Homo sapiens: one gene and its partners. The protein of the gene in region 1 interacts with the protein of each later gene in a pairwise test. Each region holds a gene or a part of one and is shown on either strand. Other genes may lie near its edges. The genes, in order: CKMT2, ELN and CETN3.

Region 1 (3,653 bases):
ATACAATGAGTTAGGGAGGAGTCCCTCTTTTTCTATTGTTTGGAATAGTTTCAGAAGGACTGGTACCAGCTCCTCTTTGTACCTCTGGTAGAATTCAGCTGTGCATCTGTCTGGTCCTAGACTTTTTTTGGTTGGTAGGCTATTAATTACTGCCTTAATTTCAGAACTTGTTTTTGGTCTATTCAGAGATTTGACTTCTTCCTGGTTTAGTCTTGGGAGGGTGTATGTGTCCAGGAATTTATCCATTTCTTCTAGATTTTCTAGTATATTTGCACAGAGGTGTTTATAGTATTCTCTGATGGTAGTTTGTATTTCTGTACGATCAGTGGTGATAGCCCCTTTATCACTTTTTATTGTGTCTGTTTGATTCTTCTCTCTTTTTAGCCTGACTAGTGGTCTATTTTGTTAATCTTTTCAAAAAACCCGCTCCTGGATTCACTGATTTTTTGAAGGTTTTTTTGTGTCTTTGTGTCTCTATCTCCTTCAGTTCTGCTCTGATCTTAGTTATTTCTTGTCTTCTGCTAGCTTTTGAATTTGTTTGCTTTCACTTCTCTAGCTCTTTTAATTGTGATGTTAGGGTGTCGATTTTAGATCTTTCCTGCTTTCTCCTGTGGGCATTTGCTGCTATAAATTTCCCTCTAAACACTGCTTTAGCTGTGTCCCAGAGATTCTGGTACATTGTGTCTTTGTTCTCATTGGTTTCAAAGAACTTATTTATTTCTGCCTTTATTTCGTTATTTACCCAGTAGTCATTCAGGAGCAGGTTGTTCAATTTCCATGTATTCGTGCGGTTTTGAGTGAGTTTCTTAATCTTGAGTTCTAATTTGATTGCACTGTGGTCTGAGAGACTGTTATGATATCCGTTCTTTTGCATTTGCTGAGGAGTGTTTTACTTCCAATTGTGGGGTCGATTTTACAATAAGTGCGATGTGATGCTGAGAAGAATGTACATATTCTGTTGATTTTGGGTGGATAGTTCTATAGATGTGTATGAGGTCCACTTGGTCCAGAGCCGAGTTCAAGTCCTGCATATCCTTGTTAATTTTGTCTGGTTGATCTAATATTGACAATGGGGTGTTAAAGTCTCTCACTGTTATTGTGTGGGAGTCTAAGTCTCATTGTAGGTCTCTAAGAAGAGTGCTCTAAGACAGCGTTCCTCCAAGTGTAGTCCCTTGACCAACAACCCCGGCATCACCTGGAAACTTGTTAGAAATGTGAATTCTGCAGGTGGGGCCTAGCAACTTGTGTTTTACCAAGTCCTTCAGGTGATCTCTTGCATGCTCAAGTTTGAGAACTGCTTGAACTAGGAGAGATGGAGAAAGGAGATAGAAAGAACCAGAGAGAGCAGAGCCTACCTATCCTGATTTGTTACATGAGGAAAAATGTAAAGGCCTTATTCTTGAAGCTACCATCTTTTTCTTACAGCCCCTGAACCTTTTATTCTAACTAATACAAATGTCTTTGGAGGCAAACTTAATTTTTTTCTTATTTTTATATTGTAGATAGAGAAAGTAAGGGTTAAGGAATGGGCAGTGATGTTTTCTTCCTCCACAAAGCAGTCGCATCTGAGCTGATCCTGGCCCATCAGGGCCACTGGGCACATAACAGTACCTTGCTGAGCTTTGGGATCCTAACGTGGACACCAGCTCGTAGTCCTGTTCCAAGGTTCGAAGGACAGGTCAAAATGTATCCTAGGCGCTCATTCCACATGAACTCCCAGCCTCGTTCTTGGATTAACCGTTCTACCTACAAGTAGAACCACAGTGAACAAATGACAGCATTTTCCAACATCCATTCATTCAGCACATCCCTAACACCAGAGAGAGAGATGTGTACCCTCCTCTGGCATGAATGAAATTAAGGTAAATTTATAGTACTCCTTTAAGAGAAAATAATACCTCTCCTACCAGACTATTAAAATGGCCCAATTAAGTTAAATGAACCATGTAAAGCAGTGGTCCCCAACCATTTTTGCATCAGGGACCGGTGTCTTGAAAGATAATGAATGTTTTAAGACAATTCTTCCACAGATCGTAGGGAGGGAATATTTTGGGATGAAACTGTTGTTCCACCTCAGATCATCAGGCATTAGTTTCTCATAAGGAGCACGCAACCTAGATCCCTCACATGCGCAGTTCACAATAGGGTTTGTGCTTCTATGAGAATCTCATGCCTCTGCTGATCTGACAGGAGGCAGAACTCAGGTAGTAATGCTGGCTTACCCACCACTCACCTCCTGCTGTGCGGCCCAGTTCCTAACAGGCCACAGACCTGTACCAGGTCCGTGGCCCCGGGGTTGAGGACCCCTGATGTAAAGCAGTCAACATAGTACCTGGCCTGTACTAAGCACTTGATGAATGTTAGTTGGTGGCATTTTTCATGCCAAGAGAGTAGGAGAATACAGGAATTATCAGCAGGTGAGTCTATGGTCAGGCTACATTCTCTGTCATCTGTATGCTTAGAATAGCTCAGAGCGATATTAAATAAATCAAAAAACAAGTAATGATCCACAGACTTCCCCAAACCACAGTGGAATGGGGAAGTAAGCGTAATAGCTTTCTAATAACAAGAGAAAGTCACTTATTTTCTGAAGCACTACCTTGGAAGTTGCACTCCAAAAAATGCCTTGAGGCTGGGCGTGGTGGCTCATCCAAAAAATGCCTTGAGGCTGGGCGTGGTGGCTCATGCCTGTAATCCCAGCACTTTGAGAGGCTGAGGCCAGCAGATCACCTGTGGTCAGGAGTTCGAGGCTAGTCTGGCCAACATGGTGAAACACCCCTCTCTACTAAAAATACAAAAATTAGCCAGGTGTGGTGGTGGCACCTGTAATCCCAGCTACTCTAGAGGCTGAGGCGGGATAATCACTTGAACCTGGGAGGCGGCAGTTGCTTTGATTTCTAGAAAAAAATTAGCTCCATCTTGGAAGTTACCATAGTGTCTTCTTTCAAGAACAAACAATACGGTAATTTTATTTTAATAAATATCCAGAAATCTCAGATAACATCTTACTTCTTTTAGTCCACGACAGAATCGCTCAAATACTCGTTTCATATTGCCTCCTTTTTCCATTGAGATTACCCTGGTGTGATCCTCCTCATTTATCCAGATGAGAAATGTCTTATCATAATTATGCCTAATGAAGAGAGAAATATGGTACTGAGTGTTAATTGCATTTGTTTCAACACATGAAAATTCCCATTACCTCCCTAGCTTGATTGCTTCATTTCACCTTCCTCATTTCCTAGATGGCCCTAATCTCTTAACTGTGCCTGAACAAGTATGACAAAATAATGTTACTTTGACAGAAGGAAGATTAAGACCAACTCTCACCCTAAAAGATGTCATGTTTTTACCAAACAAGAATATAATTAATTCCCCCTAGGTCCTCTGACTAGGATGACAGTAATTCAACTATATAACATTTGGCTTCGACATTAACAAGAATGTTTTGTCTCCTAAAAGATTCAACCAAAATCTTGTGCTCTAAAAAGCGGGTGGGGGTTACCTTCCACCCAAGATGTTGAAGGTACACAACATTTCACACATTTGCTCCATGGATCCTGCCTGTCCATCCCTACAGAGCAGCTGCACATGAACATTTTTTATTTCTGCTCCTTCAGGCACATAATTCATGCAAACCAGGTCATATTTCT
Region 2 (3,653 bases), on another chromosome or scaffold:
CCACCCCGTGAGCCGTGCCTGTCACTGACAGTCAGTCCCAAGGGAGGTCAGCTGGGGGACCCGAGGAGGGGAGGGGTTCCCAGCAGGGCCTGCAAGGCCTGCCTTCCTACACTCACTGCTTTGTCCCCCGGCAGGAGCTCGGTTCCCCGGTGTGGGGGTGCTCCCTGGAGTTCCCACTGGAGCAGGAGTTAAGCCCAAGGCTCCAGGTATGCAGCTGTCTGGACAGAGGGCTGATGGCAGGGACTCTCCAACCACCTTCTGGCCCCGGGTGTGAAATGGGGTGGGATCCTGGACTGGCTCAGGGCCCTCTGGGTGACACTTTTTATGTTCCAGCCCTGGGCAGCCTGGTGCTGAAAAACCTCAGAGTGTGGCTGGGCACACTGGCTCACACCTGTAATCCCAGTATTTTGGGAGGGTGAGCTGGGAGGATCGCTTGAGCCCAGGAGTTAAAGACCAGCCTGGGCAACATAGCAAGACCTTATCTCTACAAAAACATGATTAAAAAATTAGCCGGACATGGTCACACACACCTATGATCCCAACTATTCAGGAGGCTAAGACAGGAGGATCTCTTGAGCCCAGGAGATCAAGGTTGTCGTGAGCTATGATCACACCACTGCACTCCAGCCTGGGCAACAGAGACCCCGTTCCCCCGCAAAATAAGAAAGAAAGAAAAGAGGGCCAGATGCAGTGGCTCATGCCTGTAATCCCAGCACTTTGGGAGGCCGAGGTGGGCGGATCACCTGAGGTCAGCCTGACCAACACGGTGAAGCCCTGTCTCTACTAATAATACAAAAATTAGCTGGGCGTGGTGGCCTGCACCTGTAATCCCAGCTACTTGGGAGGCTGAGGCGGGAGAATCGCCAGAACCTGGGAGGCAGAGGTTGCGGTGAGTTGAGATCACCCCATTCCACCCCAGCCTGGGCGACAAGAGCGAAACTCCATCTCCGAAAAAAGAAACCCCAGAGTTCATGTGAGCGCAGCATGCGATGACTGGTCTGGGAAGAACTGGCCATTCCTTGGGCCTCCTGGCCCCTTGGTGCTGTCTGGCCCAGTGTCCACAGTTCCAGGGCTGTAGTGACAGCTTTTTATCATTACAGGTGTAGGTGGAGCTTTTGCTGGAATCCCAGGTGAGGCAAGGCTGGTGGGAGAAGCAGGGTGGCCAGCCAGGCAGAGGCTCTGGCGTTGGGAGGGGTTGGGCACCCAAGATCCCATCCAAGCCTGCCCAATTTCTCCCACGCCTGCAGAGCCAGGTCTTGCAGTGGCTGTAGCACAAAGTGGCACCCATCCCAGGCCTGCTCCCCCCACTGGCATAGCAGCCCAAAATTCAAAGGAGTCCAGAAAACCCTCCAGCCTGTGCCAAGGGCTGCAGGCCCAAACTGGGGCCCAGGCCCCAGGAGGGAGAGAATCCCGTAGCTTCCTGGAGGAAGTGGCCTGTCACTGGGAATTTCTCAACTGACCCATGATGGAGATTCAGGGAGTCCCTCGAAGCAGGATGGTTTCTGGATGCTGTAGCAAGCTCCTTCTGTCTGAGCAGAAAGTGGAGTGGGTGGCGGAGGGTTTGGAAGGGGGTGCTGGGACCTGAACTTGCTCTCTTTATTCCCACAGGAGTTGGACCCTTTGGGGGACCGCAACCTGGAGTCCCACTGGGGTATCCCATCAAGGCCCCCAAGCTGCCTGGTAAGTCAGAGGGACGGTTCAAGATGCACCACTCGGCCGGGTGTGGTGGTTCACACCTGTAATCCCAGCACTTTGGGAGGCTAAGGCGGGCAGATCACTTGAGGTCAGGAGTTCAAGACTAGCCTGGCCAACATGGCAAAACCCCGTCCCTACTAAAGATACAAAAATTAGCCAGGTGTGGTGGCATAGGCCTATAATCCCAGCTACTGGGGAGGCTGAGGCAGGAGAATCTCTTGAACCCAGAAGGCAGAGGTTGCAGTGAACTGAGATCGCGCTACTGCACTCCAGCCTGGGTAACAGAGTGAGACTCTCCTCCAAAAAAAGAAAAAGAAGAAAAAAAAAATGTACCACTCACTGCACCTCCCTGCACAGAAGTCAGCCTGGGTACAGGTGTCTCTGGTGGCAGGGAAGGGGTGTTGAAGCCCCTGTATGGTCACCAGCCAAGGAGAGCATGGGAAAGTCATCTGCAGGTATTGAACTCACACACACACGCTCATGCACAGAGACCCATAGTCCCGATCTGAAGCTATTAGGCTGGTGGAAAGGAACACGGTTCATTGGAAAGATCCCTCTAACATCCACCCACTCGTGCTCCCGCCCCTACCTCTGCAATCAGCTTAGACAATAAGATGCTTTCCACTGAGGAGGGGGTGTAAGGAAAATACTCAGACTCCAGGGCCATGATGGGGCTTGAATTTGTAGGGGGATGGGTGTTCCATGGGCCTCGGGGGCAGAGGTGTCCTCTCCCTCCTTCACCCAGCGCCTTTGCTCTCCTGGGAGCAGCTCAGGACCCTGATGTGGGAGGTCTCAAGCTTTAGCACCTGTGGGGGTAGATCTGTCCACCCAGGTTGGTGGGAGCCCAGCAAGGCATGGGGCAGCCCCTGAGTTTGCTCTGTCCTCTCTCCAGGTGGCTATGGACTGCCCTACACCACAGGGAAACTGCCCTATGGTGAGTGAGACCCTTCTAGACTGTGGGCTTCCAGCTCTTTCCCTCTCCAGGGTCCTAGCAAGGGTGCTGTGCTTCCAGCCCTGGGCCAGGAGAGCACCTCGCTGGGGCAGGGTTGGGGTCTTGGAGTGGGAATCTCAGAAGGAAAGGGCATGGAATTTGGACTCAGCATGGGTCTCCATCCCTGCCCTCCCACCTATCAATAATGAGACCTTAAGTGAGCTGTGTTGCTTCTTTGAGCCTCTGTGTTCTCATCTGTAAAATGGACATAACAACTCCATACATGTGTTTGTATTTGTTTTCACTCTGGCTGGGGGTGACAGGTGCAGACTCAGGACAGCTTGGGCCCCGAGGGCAGAGCAGGGGGAGGGGGAGGGCAGCAGTGGTGATGTCTGCACAGATGACCATCAAGCCTCTCTGTTTTGCAGGCTATGGGCCCGGAGGAGTGGCTGGTGCAGCGGGCAAGGCTGGTTACCCAACAGGGACAGGTAAGGAAAGCCTCACGTCACTTCCAGCCAAGGGAGCACTGATCTTCCAGGCTCCAGAGCCCTGGGGTGGGTGAGGTTCCCTCCTGAAAGCAGCAGCCCACCCTGCATCCAGACCCTGGTCCAAACCTGGAGCAGGATCCTGGGGGAGGAGTGGGGCAGCTCCATCAGCCTCTGCCTACTCTGAAGCTCCCATGTATACCCACATGTCAGTGGATTGGCTCTCTTGGGGCTGGGAACAAGTGGGCTCTGGAGATACAGGAGCACTGTTTCAAGGTCTCTCCCCTCTGCTTCCTTCCCCCAGGGGTTGGCCCCCAGGCAGCAGCAGCAGCGGCAGCTAAAGCAGCAGCAAAGTTCGGTGAGTGCCCCTGGAGTCCCCACCTGGTGGCCTCCAGGCCCCTAGCCTCTCCATTCCCATTACTATTGACAGCCTGCCTCCAAAGTGGCCCCTACATACCCCCATTTACTCAAAATTTTCAACATCACCCATCTATCTATCCCTCCCTCCAACCATTCTTCCATGCATCCATGTATCCATTCAT
Region 3 (3,653 bases), 9.1 Mb from region 1:
TGTAACCATTGACTATCTTGGTTTGGGACCTTATTTCATACCTGGAGCTTCCTAAATGATTTCTTACTAGTTCACCTTGTACACTACCACTGAATTTAGATAGTTTAAAAATTCTTTCACCATTGCTCATAAATTGTTCATTGCTCATAAACCATAACTCCTCATTGTATACTACTTAAAGTTCAGATTCCTTTGCTTTCTACTGAATGTTCTCTACACTTTTGCCACCAACTACTTTTTTCATTTGCTAACTGCTTTCTTCCTCCTGAACTCTTCTAATTAAGGTGGAATTCACCTCCTAATTCAGGTGAGCAGTTTACCTCACCTGAACTTTTCTAATTCAGGTGAGGTAAACTGCTCTGTTCATTGTCCTTCGAACCTATTCGTTTCAGTGTTTCTTTTAATACCAGTCATCCTTCCCAAATACCCTACTGCTCCTCTTCATCTATCCTTCAAGGAACAGTTTGAATCTTTCCAAATAAGACTTCTCTAGTCAGTAATATGTCTCCTTCCTTATTATTAGTAACAAAATCTCTTTTTTCTCTAAACTCAGGGTCCTTAGCCCTATCATTTACCTGGTAACTAATCATGGAAAGACTGATGATAATTCTTGTTTTAATGTTTTATCTCTTCTATCATGTAACTGTTTAATATTTATGCCACGCCTTTTTCTCATTTTGATTGTTAATCCCTTCAGAACAAATAACAATCAAATTATCTGTGCAATAAGTTAGTGCATTTTATATAGTAAAATCTGTAAACACTTGTTGGTTACTTTGTCATATAAAAAATGCAATTTATAAATGAAAAAACTTATGCATACTTAATTTCAGTAGTGAAGAACAATTACACTATCACTGCTATTTTAAAGAGGTAAAACATGCAAAAAAGTTATATTTTATTAATGTGTTGTCATCTCTTAAGATGTAAAAACTTAATAATTAGAAATTCTTTTGTAAAGAGTGCTTTATAATTTGCTTTTCCTTTTTAATCCAAAAGGTGGCAATGAGAGCCTTGGGGTTTGATGTAAAAAAAGCTGATGTACTGAAGATTCTTAAAGATTATGACAGAGAAGCCACAGGGAAAATCACCTTTGAAGATTTTAATGAAGTTGGTGTGTATTTTAATAGTCTTTGTAATCAGCAGCTGTTAGGAAATTGTCTGATTAATATCACTTTTTAAATTTTAAATTCTCTAGGTTATGGAATTTTCTTATAGAACACTGGTGTATAATGTGACTCTTACTCAGTTTTGTTTTGTTGGTTTTTTTTTCAAAGAAAAAATATGGCTTTGCTCTGAGATTTATAGTTTTGTCTTTTGTTTTGTTGTGAAGATTCTAACCAAGGAACTATTGTGTAGCTTTTTATAGAAAGATGCTTTTCCAAGTTGTTTGTATTTATATTATGTGATAAAACTTGAAGGGTGATCAAAAAATTATTTTTGCTTAATAAAACAGAAAATTTGATATCCTGCTGTTTGGAAAATGTTTCCCAAGACCTTTCTGGTATGTGATTTTTGTTGGCTAAGTGGGAGAAGAGGGAACTGGTAGTAGTTGGTATCTTTGGCTGTAGATGAAATGCACGACTTCAGGTTGACAAAGTTTATGAGAGGCTACATCCTCTGGATGACCTTGATCTCAGTGGATAAAGTCATCTGTTTAGAGGGTAGTAGTAAAGGAGGCAGTGGGCATACTGGAAGCAGGAGAAAACATCCTAGTACCACCAACTGAAGATAATGTGTCATAGGCTTAATATGGCTAAATTTTTTTATAGTTGATTTTAGTGAATTATTTATAGCATATATAGACCAGGCTTTTTCAAAATAGAAGAGTCCGGAAGGCAAGGATGTTGCTATTATAACTTAAATGTATTGTCTAGAATATTATCTACAAAATATGTAAATATTCAGGTTTATTTCTTTTTTTTTTTTTCTCTAAACCAATGGGTCACGATATAAGCACATCATATAAGTATTTTAAGATATTTTAAAAATTTGGAAACAAATTCTGCTATATACACAAACCCCTTATTTTAAATATTAATCAAGAAGCAATAGGGGAAGCAAAAAGAAATGGCAATTAGTAGACGCAGAGAAAATTTAGATTCATGTCATTAGTCAGTTTTTTAAATCCAAAAGCTCAAGTCATAAGCAGTTGAGATGGAAAATAAATGATGAACCTAAGAGAAAAAAAACACAGCACAGAAGATCCTCAACTTATGAACTAATATATGACTGTTTAGAGAGGCAACTTGTCCATTGGGGACATTTTCCTTTTTTCCTCTAATTTGTAGAATTAATTATTTGAGGAAAGGGAGAGAGCCACCTTTTGTTCTCCCAGAATGGACACTCTCCTGAAGTTTATGATCGTAGTATTCCTAGTTTTACCTTAGATTGTTTATTTGTAGAAACAAGGTGTTTGTATATAGTGGAAATGGTACTATTAGGAAGGAGCTATAATCCAGGTATGTTTAGTACAGTATAGTGGTTTAGCACTTGGAACCAGATTCCCTTGGTTCATACCTTGGTTTTGCCACTTTACAGCTCTGGAACTTGGTCTTTTTAATACCCCATGCCTCATTTTCAACTATAAAGTGGGGATCATTGTATTCTCTCATGAGATTCTTCTAAGGATTAAGTTAATGATATGTGAAGTACCTAGAAAAGGGCCTAGCATGTTGTAAGTGCTACTAAGCATTTGCTATTATTATTACTTTAAAAAATTGTCTTTGTTTCAGGGGCTCGAAATAATCATATATGCATCACTGGGACATAAAATAGACTTTGTGTATATTTTTTATTGACTTTTTTCATAAAGGCTATTGTAAGCACTGTATCATCACTAATAATTTTACAAAATATGTTATTTCACCTTAAATGAACACAATTTAAAAATTGTGATTTTTTTTTTTTTTTTTTTTTTTTTCTTTTGAGACAGAGTCTCGCTCTGTCGCCCAGGCTGGAGTGCAGTGGCGGGATCTCGGCTCACTGCAAGCTCCGCCTCCCGGGTTCACGCCATTCTCCTGCCTCAGCCTCCCAAGTAGCTGGGACTACAGGCGCCCGCCACTACGCCCGGCTAATTTTTTGTATTTTTAGTAGAGACGGGGTTTCACCGTTTTAGCCGGGATGGTCTCGATCTCCTGACCTCGTGATCCGCCCGCCTCGGCCTCCCAAAGTGCTGGGATTACAGGCGTGAGCCACCGCGCCCGGCCAAAAATTGTGATTTTTATTGGCAGTTGGGACCAGAATCCCATGCCACCTCCACTTTTTCCTGACACCCCATCTGTTCTATGTTATTAACAGAGCAGAAATACTGGGTTCCTTCTAGAATAAATAGATGTGGCTAAACTTCAGCTTTGACACTAAAAGATTAACCTTTTGACAGGGTCAACATGTATCTTAGCTATCTTAAGGCTACCTATGGAGAGTACCAGGTGTCAAATAAAAATGTATTACTGTTTGGGAATCATTCAGGAACTATGTATTACCCCTTTTGTTGATTATTTTTAACTAATCACTGACCACAGATTAATATGTTTTATACTTTGGGACAGATGATTCTAAATCATAACATTTGAGTCCTAGTTTTATGAACTACCCAAGGACACTGTTCCACAGATATATCTGGATGAAGTTTGGCAGTTAACTATTATAGA

What was found.
Region 2: the proteins of CKMT2 (region 1) and ELN interact in a two-hybrid assay, tested with the Homo sapiens proteins (one large-scale study listed by BioGRID and IntAct).
Region 3: the proteins of CKMT2 (region 1) and CETN3 interact in binary tests that used the Homo sapiens proteins (3 or more experiments, as listed by UniProt).

The regions. Positions count from the first base shown.
Region 1 is NC_000005.10:81,257,213-81,260,865, reverse strand, and holds part of CKMT2 (creatine kinase S-type, mitochondrial precursor), read right to left. Parts: intron 3,134-3,653; coding exon 3,010-3,133; intron 1,747-3,009; coding exon 1,612-1,746; intron 1-1,611. UniProt on the Homo sapiens protein: Reversibly catalyzes the transfer of phosphate between ATP and various phosphogens (e.g. creatine phosphate).
Region 2 is NC_000007.14:74,045,088-74,048,740, forward strand, and holds part of ELN (elastin isoform a precursor), read left to right. Parts: intron 1-134; coding exon 135-206; intron 207-1,100; coding exon 1,101-1,130; intron 1,131-1,608; coding exon 1,609-1,680; intron 1,681-2,587; coding exon 2,588-2,629; intron 2,630-3,054; coding exon 3,055-3,114; intron 3,115-3,415; coding exon 3,416-3,469; intron 3,470-3,653. UniProt on the Homo sapiens protein: Major structural protein of tissues such as aorta and nuchal ligament, which must expand rapidly and recover completely.
Region 3 is NC_000005.10:90,403,146-90,406,798, reverse strand, and holds part of CETN3 (centrin-3), read left to right. Parts: intron 1-999; coding exon 1,000-1,114; intron 1,115-3,653. UniProt on the Homo sapiens protein: Plays a fundamental role in microtubule-organizing center structure and function. As a component of the TREX-2 complex, involved in the export of mRNAs to the cytoplasm through the nuclear pores.